Linked DNA regions of Homo sapiens: region 2 is linked to region 1. Evidence: fine-mapped expression QTL. Tissue or cell type: whole blood. Region 1 holds a variant in brackets; the other region holds the start of a gene. All regions are shown on one strand. Distances are between the middles of the regions.

Region 1 (8,111 bases):
TAATTGTAATTAATGCTGCTGAATGGCACACTTAACAATGGCTAAAATGGCAGATTTTATGTTATCTATATTTTACTATAACAAAAAATACATAGAGCCTGGGCAACATGGTAAAACCCCATCTCTACAAAAAAATACGAAAAATTAGCTGTGCACAGTGGTATGTACTTGTAGTCCCAGTTACATAGGAGGCTAAGGTGGGAGGATCACTTGAGCCTGGGAAGTTGAGGCTGCAGTGAGCTTTGGGCAACAGAGTAAGACCCTGCCTCAAATATATATATATATATATATAGTTATTAGTAACCTCAATGCTTTCATCTTTCCTCCTAGTCTTCCTTCTTTCTAAAATTTTTAGGTATAATTTATATACAATAAAATGCACAAATCTTAGGTATTTGATTTAAAGTGTTTAACAAATATACGCACCCATATAACTACTATCCAAAACAAGATATGGGGTATTCCCATTATCCTAGAAAGTTTACCCTAGAAATGTCCCCATGTACATTTCTAGTCAATTCCCAGACTTCTAACATCATAGACTTATTTCACCTGTTCTGGAAAATTATAAAAGTTGATTGATACAACAAATGATTTTTTGAGTGTGACATCTTTCACTCAACATACATTTTGGGGATTCACCCATGTTGTATATATCAGTATTCCATTCCTTTTTAATGATGACCTCATGTCACATGGCCTCAGCCATTTCAGCAAAGTCAAAAATAGAAATGGGATTAACTAGGAACGAAATTTGTGGACAAGTCTTTTGTCTTATGGAATGAATACCCATGATATACATGGGAAACCCACTAGGTTCTTGAAGATTTTATACTAATAGAAATGTTGCCAGAGTGTATTAAGAAGGACAAAGACAGTATGAAATGAAAAAAGGCTGTCAGATCTCCAAAATTCCATGGGCAGGAAACAGCTGAATATATGTGCCAACTTTCATGAAAAAGGGAGGGTGATTCAGAGGGTGGTGCCAGGAACTGGGGAGGATGAAACCAGGAGCACCGAAGGTGGAGCTGTGATTCTAAAAGACAGAGCCAGAAGCCAGGAGGGCAGAAACTGGAAAGCAGGTGGCAGAGCTGGGAGCTGCTGCTGATTATTCCCAGGCCTTGAAACCAGATGAAGTTTACTCAGTCCTATTTCAAAATTGCTTGGAATTGGTAATTCCTGTTTACCTTTCATTTTCTCCCTTTTGAACCAGAATATCTATAACTTATCCTATGCCTGTCTCACCATTGTATTTTGAGAGCAGATAACTTGTTTCTTTAATTTCATAGATCCACAAATGGAGAAAAGTTGTGCTTCTGGATGGGTTATATCTGGAGCCTCACCTATACCTAATTTAGATGATGAGATATGGGACTTTTGAGATTTAGATGAGATGTTGAACTTTGAGTTGATGCTGTAAAGGTTAACCTTTCGGGAAATTGAGATAAGTGAATGTATTTTGCATGTGGGATAGATGTGAATCTTTAGGGATGAACTGTGATAGGGCGAATAATGGTCCCCAAAGATGTTCATATTCTACCAGAACATGTGAATATGTTATATTACATGGCAAAGGGAAATTAAGTTTGGAGATGAAATTAAGGGTTCTAATCAGCTGATCTTAAAGTAGGGAGATTATTCTGGATTAGTTGAGTGGTCCCAATCAAATCACATGAGCTCTTAAAAATGGAAGGGGGATGCAGAAGCATTTGTCAGAGAGATACCACCTGAGGACTTGACTTGCTTTTGTTGGTTTTGAAGATGGAGGAAGGGAGCCATGAGTCAAGGAATGAGGCAGCTTGAAAACCTGGGAATGGCCTTCAGCATACAGCCAACAAGAAAACAAGGGCCTCAGTTCTACAGCCGGAAAGAACTGAATTCTGCCAACAGCCTGCATGAGTAAGAAAACAGATTCTCCCTAGAGCCTCCAGATAGCAATGCAGTCCTGCTGATGCCTTAATTTTAGTAGAGTGAGACCTTTGCAGACTTCTGACCTATATAACTATAATTAATAAATCTGAGTTGTTGTACGCCACTGTTTGTGTTGCAATTTGTTAATGGCAGTAACAGCAAACTAAAATAAAACCAGTCAAAGATTTCAACTCTTGTGGGATCACATTCCCCCAGGAGGAGACAGTCAATATATGTAATAAATAAATTATATAGTATGTGAGAAGGTAATAAGTGATATGAAAAAGAACAAACAGTAAAAGGGAGTGAGAGTGTGATTTTAAGTGGGATAGCTAAGGTAGGCCTTATTGAGAAAGGGACACTGGAACAAAGTGGGGGTTTGTGATGTAAATTTAGCAGTTCAAGTCTAATTTAACAGTATTTTATTAAATAAAACAATTGGTTACTCAATTTGTTTGAAGCCCTAGTGTTAGGATTTAAATTAAGATACATATTTTTTCTAGATATTATCTAACATAGAAAAATGGTTGTTTATTTTGGTGGCTAAGCATTGTATTTAAAAGATTGTCTTTTTAATTCTTTTCATTATTAGTCTTTTTCTTATAGTTTCCATATGTTAAAATATGCATATATTTTTTTTCCCAGATATATTATTTTGGTACCTTCTCAAAGTTTTACTAAAAGTGTAATGGAGTACTTTCACTGTTATCTTTCCATTCCTAACAAGATCTTTCTAGTTTCATGAGACTCAAAGTGATAGAGTAGAAAAAGCAAGACACTTTCAGAGGCAAGTTCTGTCCCATATATGCTACAAACTCTAGCAAGCCAGTGACCTACTCTTTTTTTTTTTTTTTTTTTTTTGAGACGGAGTCTTGTTCTTGTTGCCCAGGCTGGAGTGCAATGGCACGATCTTGGCTCACCACAACCTCTGCCTCCTAGGTTCGAGCAATTCTCCTGCTTCAGCCTCCCAAGTAGCTGGGATTACAGGCATGCGCCACCATGCCTGGCTAATTTTTTGTATTTTTAGTAGAGACGGGGTTTCACCATATTGGCCAGGCTGGTCTTGAACTCCTGACCTTGTGATCTGCCCACCTCGGCCTCCCAAAGTGCTGGGATTACAGGCGTGAGCCCCCGCACCCAGCCCTGACCTACTCTTAACTTCAGTTTCCATCTGAAAGTTTAGAAAACTTATACTTGTCTTCAAGGATGTTACAAAAATTAGGTAAGAAAATCTTGTAAATTGGCTGGGCATGGTGGCTCACGCCTGTAATCCCAGCACTTTGGGAGGCCGGGGTGGGCGAATCACGAGGTCAGGAGATCGAGACCATCCTGGCCAACATGGTGAAACCCCATCTCTACTAAAAATACAAAAATTAGCTGGGCATGGTGGCGTGTGCCTGTAATCCCAGCTACTCAGGAGGCTGAGGCAGGAGAATCGCTTGAACCAGGGGAGTTGCAGGTTGCAGTGAGCCAAGATCACACCACTGCACTCCAGCCTGGTGACAGAGCAAGACTCTGTCTCAAAAAAAAAAAAAAAAAAAATCTTGTAAATTATTTTTAAAATCCTTTCAATTATTTTCACAGATTAGTCTCTTTTCCTTGACCTAAATTTCTAAAATAAAATAAAATATGCAATATTTTTGAAATTATGTAACAATTGATTGTTTCAATATAGGGCAAATTAGAAGTTAATAAAGAAAAAAGTTCTATTTGAGTAAAGCACACATTTACTGAGGCCTACATTTTCGTTCCTAAGGTTTTGCTTTGAGCAACTTAGGGCATACTGTGTGAGGCAGCATGGAGGCAGGAAAGCTCAGCTTCTGTGGGAGAAAGAACAGGGGCCTCCTATTAGTGGCCAGTGGATCAACACTCCCATGTTATGCTTAGAACTTTATTACTATGAAAAGCTCTTTGATTTGTCTTTTCAACTCTCTTATAAAATGAAGATAATAAATCACTTCAAAAATCCAAATGTTTTTTTTTCCTGTTCCCAAAGCTTTTGTAGAAAAGATAAAAAAGGGAGAAAAAGGGAGGTGGGGTGAAGGACAGAGACATGTTTTAGACTCATGCCCTGAGGTTATGCAGAAACAACTGTCACAAAGGTTAAAACAAAAAGTCTTTATCTTTTTCTCAGTGGATAGCAGGAGAAAAATGACATAGGAAATAGCTACTTCAACTGAGGGAGTCAAATCTTTGCCTTACTTGTTTGACTCAATTTACTTTAATTGGCAGGTAGGTTCTTCGGGAAAGAGAAACTATTTGGAACAAAAAGAACCGAACAGCCTATTTGAAAGCCGTGTCTTAACAGCAGATCTGAAATTGTACACATTTATTTTCCCATATTGTTATTTATTAAAGAAGGGGATTAAATTACCTTGCCTCCACATATCTGATGAAAAGGGATAGCTACATTTTATTTCATACCAAATTGGATACATTGCTTAACCTCTTATAGCTTCCATTTTTTTAACCTGTAAAAAACAATCCTACACTGGTATGTTAAAAGATCATTCTAAATTACCATATAGTAGGCTTTTAATAAATATTTATATCAGTGTGGTGGTCATCACTGTTAATACATGAAATTATTATTGCTAGTCTAATCTTGCAAGCTAACAGTAGGGCTCTAGTTTAGGCAGCTCATTGGCCAATAATTTGCTAATAAATCAAGCAATGAAATAAATGTAAAAAGTTTTACATATCCTAAAAAATGTGATAGATTTGGTACTGGTGGGACATAGAGTATCAGACCAAACAGGCTGTCTGAACAGATTTTCTCTGTAAAAATCATATATAGATGACATAAATTTCAACTCTAGAACCTATTCAGCTTCCTCAGTGCTGCCTACACCTGTTACATCTCACAATCAGCAGGAATATGTCATCCATAGTGAAAGCCTGGAACCAAACTAGGTTGCCAGAGCCAAGGTAATAGGGAAGATAGAATGACTCCAGAAACTGCCTGAGGCAAGAAAATGATATGATATTGAATTGAAAGATAGAGCAAATGGTATTAACATTTTCTTTACAGAGATGATAAGAAGTCAGAGATGAAC[A/G]CTGAATTGAATAGGCATTTCCTTTGTTTTCCTAGTCAGTCTCATTAACTTCTCAGAGCAAATTATTTTAAATTAACTGGGGTCACCATTCCTTTCATTCAGTTATGATTTACTCAGCACTTACGATGTACTAGACAGCATGTAAGGCACTGGATGTATAGAAATATGAAATTGAATCCGTGCCCTCTAGAAGCTCATAATTTTAGGAGGCAGACGTTTATTGCACGATGTGATGGGTACTATGAGAGAGTAAGCAGAGAAGTACAGAAGAGGCATCTCACCCAGTCTGAAGGATTTGGGAAGAGTTTGTTGGAAGAGATGACATCTGAGCCAAGACAAAAAATGAAAAGACAATGATCAGAGTCAAGCTTGGGGAAATTTTACGTGTTATTTAGAGATATGTGATAACTGGTTAATTCAGGGAATTTTAGCAAATAAATGCTGGACCACAGAGGAATATGGGGGATTGTGAGAGGCAAGCTGGACAAGTAGCATGGGACCAGATCATGAGGACCTTTATATGCCATGTTAAGACAGTAAGAAGTTGGCGAAAAATTCTGCTCATGATGCCTTAGTTAAAAATCATACAAATAACTTCTCACCTTTTATTTACATGGAAAACAAGAAAGTCTTTGAGAACAGCACATACAGAGAAGGGGGTGTTTACTAGGGATTATGATGACTATGATACTGAGCCCTTCAATTCCAGTCTTCAAGAAGCAATTCCCACTTCCATCCAACCCCTAGGAGTCAGGGCTTCTGACAGCACAACTATGTTTTTGCAGAGTGTTTGTATTCTTTGGTTCTCACCTTTAAGTACTTGTCTTGATGGAAAGAAAGATTAAAGGTATTTTACTAGAAAAGTCTTAATGCAATTGTAGTGGGTTGAATAGCATCCCTCGGAAATTCATGTCCTTATAGAACCTCAGAATGTGACCTCATTTGGAGATAGCGTCTTTGCAGATGCAGTTAGTTAATATAAGGTCATACTTATACTAACTTGGATAAGGGTGAGCCCCAAATTCAATGGCTATTGTCCCTATAAGAAAGGCATGTGAAGACAAAGGCAGAGGTTGGAGTTATGCTTCCACAAGCCGTGGAATGCCAAAGATGGCAGGCAACCACTGGAAGCTGGGGGAGAAGCAAGGGACAGTTTCTCCCTCAGAGCCTATGAAGGGAACCAGCCCTGCTAATACCTTCATTTCGACTTCTGGCGCCCTGAACTGTGAGAAAATACATTTCTGTTACTTTAAGCCACCCAGATTATGGTAATTTGTTAGGAAACTAATGCAACAACAACAACAAAAAAGTATCTTAGTGATAATGAAAATTTTTCTAAATAGGGCTTTGTCCACTCCAAAAATCTCAAACTGGTCTTAATGGATAGATGAGTAATTCTTAGGAATTTTCATAGTAATTACACGATCTATAATGAAAAGAAGTCCATATAAATTTCAAGATCTTAGAAATCTGGTTTCTATACTCCTGCCTACTTACTCAAGTACTTATTTATTCCCAGTGGTGATACATAATCATTTCTACAATTAATTTTCTCTTTCTATTTAAGGTTATTTTCCTTGTCTTATCTTGAAGAACTTGATGTTTCCTATAATGAACTTACTTTTATTCCAAATGAAATTCAGAAACTCAGGTATTTTGGAAGTACACAGAAAGTTATATGCCCCTTAATTATATATTTAATAATGATTGTGATAGAGAAAATCAATCCTTTCATTTATTTAATAGCCATAAAATGTAATCTGTGAAGTACAAAGTTTACCAAACATGTAATTTGAATGATTGGTGTACAGTATTTTTAAGACATAACATTTCCAGAAATTATTTAAAGAAAGTGCAGATGACTACTTAACAGAACGATAAGCTACTTATGTCCATTTGTCTGTGTGTGTACCTGTGGCTCTTATTATGTTTCATTTATTTTTTGTGAGGAAATACATTTACGCAAAATGCTAATAATACAAAATATAATTTTAATGCAAAGCTTCAATTCTTTCTAACATTAATAAAAGTCTGAAGTTTATCTATGTCCTTCTAGGTCAGTACTATACTGTTTTGATTGTGACTTCAGAATAATTTTTAATAACTAGTAGGGAGATTATTTTTCAGTAATAGTCTCTTAACTATTCTCTTTAGAACATAATCTTTCAGATCATTTTGTATAATTTCTAGCACATCCAGCAGCACACATAATCACAGAGTTAGAATTTTAATTGCAATTGCATAGAGTTTACTCATAAATTTGGGAGAATTTATATTTTTGATCAATTTTTCTACTCTAAAACTTTTTTTTCATTTTTTCAGATCTTGTTTTATGTTCTTCATAGGAATTTATGACTCACGTCATATTTTTCTTAATAACCTTTTCTAAGTGTTTTATGATTGTGATTGTTACTATGAATGTAATGTAATATTTCTCTTATTTCCACTTGTTTCTAATTATTGTCAGTACAGAATAGAGAAAAACTATGTACTTCTTTACATTAACTTAAAACTAATGTGTGTAACCAAGTTCTTCTGTTAGTTCTGATTTAGTTTTACTACATTTTATTTTGTTTCCTAGGAACGTAATCTTCCATTTAGCAGAATGAGATAATTTTACCTTTGCTTTTAAAATATTTAGATCAATTATTTAATTTCCTATGTGACAATCTCTATATTTTAGTAGGAGAATTCAGTCTGTTCATATTTATTATGACCAACATATTTAATTTTTGCTTTTCATTTTACTTTGTACTTATTATTTATTTACTTTCCCCTTTTCCTACCTATTTTTTTAAGGATGCTGTTTGTTCTCTTTTTAAATTTTTGAATTTATTTTATTTTTAATTTTTAGAGACAGGATCTCACTCTGTCGCCCAGGCTGGAGTGCAGTGGTATGATCATAGCTCACTACGGCCTTGAACTCCTGGACTCACAATTCTCCTGCCTCAGCCTCCTGAATAGCTGGGACTATAGGTGTACACCAGCATGCCTCGCTAATTTTTTTATATTTTGTAGAGATGGGGGTCTCACTATGTTGCCCAAGCTGGTCTCAAACTCCTAGCCTCAAGTGATCCTACCACCTCTTTTTTTCTATGTTATTAATTTTGGCATTCTATTGTACTACCCTAATCTGCTATTTGG
Region 2 (8,105 bases), 76 kb before region 1:
TGACTAAGTAAAAGTTAACAACTGCCCTTGTGTTCTTTGTCATCAAAGAGGCCCATTATTGGGTATATAGTTTTGGCAAGGGTAGCTAAGTTTTGGCCCAACCAATGTATTTATACTAAAAAAATGAGATTGTAATTTTCCCTGTTTGTTAGTCATTGTACAATTTTTTAAATTTCTTGAGGTCAATGTCTATATGATACTTTGAAGCTAAAATGAGACTAGGGCTTCGGTAAAGCTGAAACATGGTAGAATGCAAAATATTATATTATTGTTGCATCTTCATTCATAGCAATAAATGGAAACTCAGTAAATATTAAGTTAATAAGTACAATCAAAGTCTTTCATGCGTATGTAAGAAGCTGAGAAAAAAAATACTTGTGACAAATTTTCAATTCAATAAATGCCTTTAGTATCTACATGTGCCAGGAAAGATGGAGAAGGAGCTCAGGTCTGTCAGCAAATAAGTACTTGAAACTAAGACAATGTGATTAATGTTATACTTACTCCAAGATCAAAGCATTGAGCAAATGCACACCAAAGAAACATTTAGTGGGGGCAGGGAGAAGATGGGAAGGCCTCCAAAAGGGTATGTTTCTTGAAGTCCGCCTTGAAAAATGATCAGAAGTTTTAAAAATAAAGAAGAATGCAATTAAAGAAACAGTTGCAGTGAAAAAAGGTGAAAGAGAATGGAACTTTCTGGTGGCTTGTGGTCTGGTGCACCAAAATGTGGGTTAGCAGTGGCGGGGGAGGGGATGGGGTAGTGGGAGGTTGAACAGAAGGAAGTGACAAGAAATAAGATTGGGGAAGTGGGTCGAGGCAAGTTTGTAAAGGCACACAATTCTTTAGTAAAATTATGCATTAATTTAAAAATAGTTCTTCAGCCCATTATTATATAAAACCTGCAATGGTATCTCTTATTTATAAAAATAAAAATGTTTGTAAATTTATTACAAAGTTTTTCTTCTCTCTCTCTCTCTCTTCTTTCTCTTGCTCTCTCTCTTTTATTCTCTCTTAAAACTGTGAGTGCCAAGATCTTGTTAGCTAGCTTCAGTAATAAAAGTCTATAATCACCTACCTCTGAGAAAAATATGCTGGCCTGGAAGGGAGGATCTGTAACACACACAGTCAGTAGGAGCCTGAAATCCTGGCCATCTACTGCCCCCCACCCCAACTGCCCAGTGACCTATGGCCGGTTCCTTCAATTATCTAGCCCATTCCTTATCTCTAAAGGTAGCTGAGAGGATTAAACGAGGTAATGCATAAAGAGTAGCTGCTTACACTACGTGCTCATAATTATTGAGTGCTATTATTAATTTCCTGTCCTCTCCAAGTTAAATGGTACTTTAACAACAAGTAAATGAGACTTTACTTGTTGGTCTTCCCTTCCCCAAAGGGTTCAGAGATAGAATTATAAATGAAGTTAAAGCACTGAAATTGTTTCCCAAATTACCAATTGTTTCAAGGCATAATTTACAAAAGAGACAAAAATTTAAATGCTACAAAGAAAAGGGTCTCTGGGATTGCTAAGGAAATGTCCTCCTAGGCACAACTCCATCCCACCACAGCAGTGCTTGTTCAAAGGGCAAGACCTAGAAGATTTTTCCCCTGATGTTCCTGGGGGTGAGCTAGAATGAAGAGGAATATCTTTGTAACATATGGGGTTGATGCTTTAGCAATGTAAACTTAACTTTAAACAGGGGACCTTTATATTTTGAATTAACTTTCGCATAGTTCTTTTTTATTCCTTCGTAAATATAAGAAAAATACTGACATTCCTTCACATTCGAATTTATTTTATTCTCATTAATAGTTTTACTTAAAATAAGACACAACATATTTTTAGTCTGTTCTTTTACGGGGTTCAAGTCCCTCTTATCTCAGTTTCACATTTTTGCTTGTTTGAAACTATTCAGGTGAGATGTGCAAAGTAACATTGGTGGTCACATTTTGCAGTTTCCAGAAATTCACATTTATAGGTAAATGATTAATTCTATTCAAATTTGTCTACACAGACATTCTTTAAACAATTATACTTAATAGAAACCAAACTTATGACAAATGTATGTAAATTCAAAATCAAGATGTGTGTGGATAAGCCACCTTTATTTGCTTACTGATAGTTCTGACAGAGTAATTTTAGAAAACAAGTTGCTGTGTAAAAGAAAAGTTCGGTTTTGATAAACATCCTGATTAATGTTCGCATTTCCAGTCTGAATGGCTTTTATAGTTATCATTTGTCAATGGTTCTTAGTGTTATGTGATAGTGGTAATTAAGTAAAAGCTTATACTACAAAATCCAAAGTGTCTATGTTTGGGCAGTTTCTGAAATAAATATCCCATATCAACTGTGTAAAAATTTCTATTGTAGATAAAAGCCTTTCTCCCAGAATTTGAGTGAATATTCATTGATATGGTCATAAGCATAACAAATAATTCAGACAATCCTACAAAAACACTACAATTAAGCATTATACAAATTGCTTTTATTTTTAGAGAACAAATGGAAAAGAGAAAACCTCTAATTCCATGTGGTTATAAAGCACACCCATTAAAAACCCTTGGCGCCAAAAATCACTCAAATAACCAGTATCACATTCAGTAACATATGACTCTAGATAATTTATCCACTAAAGTACTGTAAAGAAGTTTTTTAGAAAAACAGAACCGCAGGAACTAAAATTAAACTACCCCCATTGGGCCAATAAGCCATACAATCTAAATTATCAATACGCGCTTTTCCTGAAAACATTTTAAAGAAGATAAAATCACAGTAAATAGCCTCCGTGAAATAGAGCAATAGAAATAAACCAGAACATGGTTTGGTTTTAAAAGGAAAAAGAAACCTTAATTTTGGGCAGGGGTGATAACTGCAGATAAGTTGAGAAGAACCCAGCCCAGAGAGCCGAGGTGCTCCATCTTGGATGGCCACGCGAGGTGGCGGCAGATGTCCTGGCCAGTTAGACAGTGGCAGGAATCACAGAGGTCTCAGGTGACATGCTCAGATCTCTGGTCCCCTGAAGGCAAAACCCACAATCCACAGAAACAGTGCCGAAGTGCATCACAAGCGCTTAAAACCAACAAAAACACATGAAGAACATTTACCTTGCAGGAAAAAAGCTGTCCTTGGTAGTACTGGTGTATGACCAGGAACCCCTTCTTTCTGATCTGCAGAACAGCTTTGTCAAGCCTGGGTGTGTGGTCACAAGGCAGGAAGTGACTAGAATGACAAATCATCAGCCAGGAAAGAAAAAGATTTTGTCTTTATAAGGACATTTTAACTTTTTTTTCATGTCCCCGCCCCACCAAAAATCACCTGACAGAACAGGTCACAGTGAAATTCAGACACCTCCTACCACTTCCTCTTTTTTTTTTTTTTTTTTGAGACAAGGTCCCGCTCTTTTGCCCACCTCTTTATAAGCATTTTTCTCTCTCCCTTTCTCCTCCAGCTGTCTTTGAGTAGTCCCTGGGCTACTTAAACCTTTCTGATTCTAGATAGCAAGGCAAGATCAGCCTGATAACTTGACTTCTTTGACTCTAGTTGCAAAAGCAAAGCCCAGATGCCTACCTACTTACAGCAAAGATCAACAAATTTTTCATTTTTAGTGAAAGAGCCAGGGAAAAAGGTGGCAGTACACCTGAAACAAATGAAAAGGGACTTCCTTGGGAAAGCCCCACCCCACCTGAAATCAAACCTCTCTGGAGTCCTCTAACAGTGATCTTATTGGTGCAAACAAAACAGAACGATCTCTTTAAGTGAAGGACATGAAAAGGAAGGTTACTAGATTATTTACTCATTCTTTTATTTATAGAACATCTATGTGCTAGGGATCTCTTTAACCCAATTAAGTATCTCAATTATTTAAGCGTTTCCTATAAAGAGCAGCAGTAGATTGCACAGGCAGCTGTTATATTTAAATGGGTAGCTTAATTCCTTCTTACAGGCAGGATTTTTTTTTGAATGCACATTTTATAAAATTAGCAGGTGGTGGCAGGGGAAGCTCTGTTCTGTACCCAAACCCCAGATGCTTGAGGGCAAATTCCTATCTTCAAATGGAGCATCCTCAAGTGCTCACAACAGTTGTGAAGACTGTGGCACCCTGAGTTATGTTGACTAAATATTAGACATGTCTCCACATTGCCCGGAGACTGTGTGTGACTCCAGTAGTCAATCTGCCGTTTAGGAATGAGGGTATGTGGCTGTACTCCCAGGTCAGATGCTGCGCTGAAGATATCTGCTCCAGAGTTGACATGCGTCCGTGTCCGCTGGGCCACGGGCCTCTCAGGTGGTCACGGTATTCTGACTGGTTGGAGGGCTGCCCTTATACTTCTTTTGCTTTTTTGATTTCTCCTCTAGAAAGTTCCTGTTTCTGACCTTAAATGTTAAACCAAACTGTTCTGGTTTATCTACTTCATTAGCCAGTGGTGTGGTGACTTCATCAGAAGCCCACAGGGGCTATCTTGAGGAACTGGGTGGGCGGAAGAACAGGACGAGACGGTGGGGATTCTAGAAACGGTTCACCTCACAGAGAGCTATCAGCCCTCTTGTGATTTCCCAGGGAAGACTGAGGGGGTGATGGGACTCTGTTTTCTCCATCGCATAATCACTCCCAATTAATAAGTTGCAGAGAGCTTTCAAGAAGCACCTACATTCTTTCAGGACACCAGAGGAACATCCATGCATCACTGTTACAGCACTGCTCACGCTACAAAGCAGCAAAATGCTGTCTTCATTCGGGGCCCTGCAGCAGGACTCTGTAGATAATGTCCTGCTGGTGTTACAGATACAAGGGGTTGTAACTGTGGACCTCCCTGATCTGGTTCCACATCCTGGTGGCTTCAGGATGGCATAAAGGCCCAACAGTAACACTTCATGAAGGGGAACAGATATTTATTCCTTTACCTTGGAGAAGGAAAGCACAGTGTTCTGTATCTAGTGGTGCCTGGTCATCTGAGGCCGGAGGAATCTATGAAGAAGAGCAAAATATATTTGTGCATTGGTTCAGCAAGTGTTTGCATGCCTGTCTGAATTGGTGATTCAGAAATAAATAAGACACAATCGCTGTTCTCAAGGAGTATAGTCTAGTGGGGAAAAAACATGTAAGTAAATAAATGCCATCTATAATAGAGGGGTGAAAAAGGCAGTGTGATATCAAAGCAGTTGCAGATTTGAGCAGAGGTGATGTTTGTTAAGTGAAGAAAAAGATTTAGGATTCCAGGCAACGTCGAGGTTGTAGAAGATGAAAGGCATTGACCTGGGTACTGCTTACAGCCACCCAGTTAATAGAGTCGTCTTCTACCCTAGCATCCACGGCAGGCACCCACACCCCCTCAGCCACATCCTGGCCGGCACCATTGCAAGCCCTGCCCTACTCCCTCAATCTTAATCTCTTTATCTGCCTCTCATTGGTGTAAGTCTACCCAGTTTCAGGCAATTGTTTAGGTCCTAGACCAAGACTTTTTCAGAGAAGTGTATTTTTTTGCTGTTGGTGTTTTAAATTGCTTGTGCAGCATAGTACTAGTAAACAGAAGACTGACTTTTGGTTTTCTTACGTTTTTATGTTCTGTACAGACAGTGCGCCCCCTTATGGCCTGAAGCCGGAGTGGACCTTTCTCAGCCCACCCTCTATGAGCCTCCACTGCCACCTGTTCCTGGCCTGGGTTTTGCCTTCCTCTAAGCCCTACCACCCTCTCAGACTTCATCCCACCCTCTCCTGCCCTGAAGCCTCTGGCCTCAGTCCCAGATATCAGATCACCTGCTACTCTCAGGCCTCTAAATATTGCTGAGGAAAGTCACAGAAACACAAACTTGGAATGCTAAAAAGTCAAGATGCTTGACTTCAAATTACTTTCAGAAATACTTCTATTCAATTTTACTAAGTCTTGAGAACAGGCATTCTCAACCTGGAGTCCATAGACCCCTAAAACTAAATGCACAATTTTGTGTGTATGTACTTTTTTTCTGGGAGAAGGGTCCATTGTATTAGTAAAGAGATCACAGACCCCAAAAAGTTGGGTATTTATTCTAAACTCTCTCCTCTTGCCTCAACCTTCCACTTCACCCTCCTATGCTTTGTCCTGGCCCAAGATTCTTCTGTTGCCCCTTCTTGACTGAGATGATCCAAGTCGTCTGGTATGAGCTTCCTCTCTACTTCCACAATATCCACCTCTTCCTCCTCTCTTTCAGTCTTAATGGAAGCGGCATTCTTCTTTCTTCCCAAGGTCAGTGTTTCAACACTATCTCACTCTTAATATTCTACTTCCTTAGATATCTTGCTCCATCAATTGTCTCGTGTTTCTCTAGCATCTTAATGCTAGCATCTTCAGCTCTCCCCACTTCCTCTCCATGCACTCATGGGATTTGTATGAAGAGAAAAACACCTTTGCTTCACTCTGCAGCCCACCCTCATCCCAACATATCATGGGCAGGGAATGAAGATGAATTAAGATGGGTACAGTCCTTGCCATTGTAGAATGTCCACTGTAGTTGAAGACACAGACAAGGAAAAAAGGCAAGTGAAGAGTTATCTACTTGGAAGCACAACAGACGAAAAGCAGCGTCCCTAGGAGCACACAGCACTAACCCAGACATGGGACCTGGGAGGCAGAGAGAGGGAGCATCAAAGTGGTGAAGAGTAAAGATGCTGGGCCAGCTGGCTGGGGTCAAGTTCCAGCTCTACTGTTGTACTAGCTGTGTGATCTTGGGCAAATTAGTTACTTGCACTGGCCTCAGTTTCCTAGTCTATAAAATGGGGGTAAGAACAGTGTCTATTTTAGACAGTTGTTGCAAGGGGTAAGTGAATTGATATATGTAAAGAACTTAGAAGAGTGCCTGGCACGTAGTATATCCTATGTACGTGTTAACTAATCGCTTAATATTTACGTCAGGCTCTGGACTAGACCCCTAACATCCATTATTTCATTTATTCCTCACAACAACTCTATGAATTAGGTATGATTGTTAATTTTTTTCTTTAATTTTTAAAATAATGGCTTCATTGCAATATGATTTACATACCATAAAATTCACCTTTAAAAAGTATACAATTCAGTGGTTTGTTGTATTTTAACAGAGTTGTGCAACAATTACACTATATAATTCCAGAACATTTTCATCATCCCCAAAAGAAACTCTGTACCTGTTAGAGATTCCTCCCCATTCACCCCCATCTCCCAAATTCCCAGCCACAGCCAACCACTAGTTTATTTTCTCTCTCTATAAATTTGCCTATTCGGGACATTTCATATAAAGGGAATTACACAATACATGCTCTTTTGTGACGAGCTTCTTTCACTTAGCATGTTTTCAAGGTCCATCCATGTTGTAACATGTCACTACTTCATTTTATTATTTATTCATTTATTTTGAGATAGGGGCTCACTCTGTCGCCCAGGCTGAAGTGCAGTGGTGTGATTATAGCTTGCTGAGGCCTTGAACTCCTAGGCTCAAGCCATCCTCCCGCCTCAGCTTCCTGAGTAGCTGGGTCTACAGGCACGCACCATCACACCTGGATATTTAAATTTTTTTTTTTTCTATAGAGACAGGGTCTTGTCATGTTGGCCAGGCCGGTCTCGAATTCCTGGGCTCAGGTGATCCTCTTGCCTCGGCCTCCCAAAGTGCTGGGATTACAGACATGAGCCACTGCACCTGACCTTCACTCCTTTTTATGGAAGAATGCTATTCCACTGTATGAATATATCACATTTTATTTACTCATCAGCTGATGGATATTTGGATGCTGCCTACTATTTGATATTATAAAAATGCTGCAATTAACATTTGTGTACATTTTGTGCGTGTGGACATATGTTTTCTTTAATTTATTAATCAAAGTAATATATGTATTTGGTTTTAGAAGTCAAATATTACCTCAAGGCTTCTCATGAAACACCAGTCTCCCGACACACTCCTTCACCTCTGATTCCCATTCCCTAGAACCAAGTATTTTGAACAGTTTTAGCTAATTCTTCTGTTATTTTATTACATATTTCTAGATGTTATGCTTATGGTGTATCTTGATTGGGTTCAGATACCTACATATATTTATGTATATGTATATATATGTTCATATATTTTTTCCTTCCTACTTGAGAGATAAATATTTGAC

The links. PIP is the estimated chance that this variant, and not a neighbour inherited with it, causes the effect.
Region 2: it holds the start of LCP1, and the variant in region 1 is fine-mapped to the expression of LCP1 in whole blood (TOPMed, PIP 0.92).

The regions. Positions count from the first base shown.
Region 1 is chr13:46,255,375-46,263,485 of GRCh38, forward strand. LRRC63 (leucine rich repeat containing 63) reads left to right here. Exons shown (of 10, transcript NM_001282460.2): 8 at 6,535-6,618. Among named protein-coding and RNA genes, the nearest start is that of LINC00563, 38 kb to the right of the region's middle. The variant A/G (reference allele first, on the strand shown) is at 4,968.
Region 2 is chr13:46,179,009-46,187,113 of GRCh38, forward strand. It overlaps LCP1 (lymphocyte cytosolic protein 1), which reads right to left and starts at 3,169. Exons shown (of 16, transcript NM_002298.5): 1 at 3,103-3,169. RefSeq lists an enhancer at 2,832-3,261.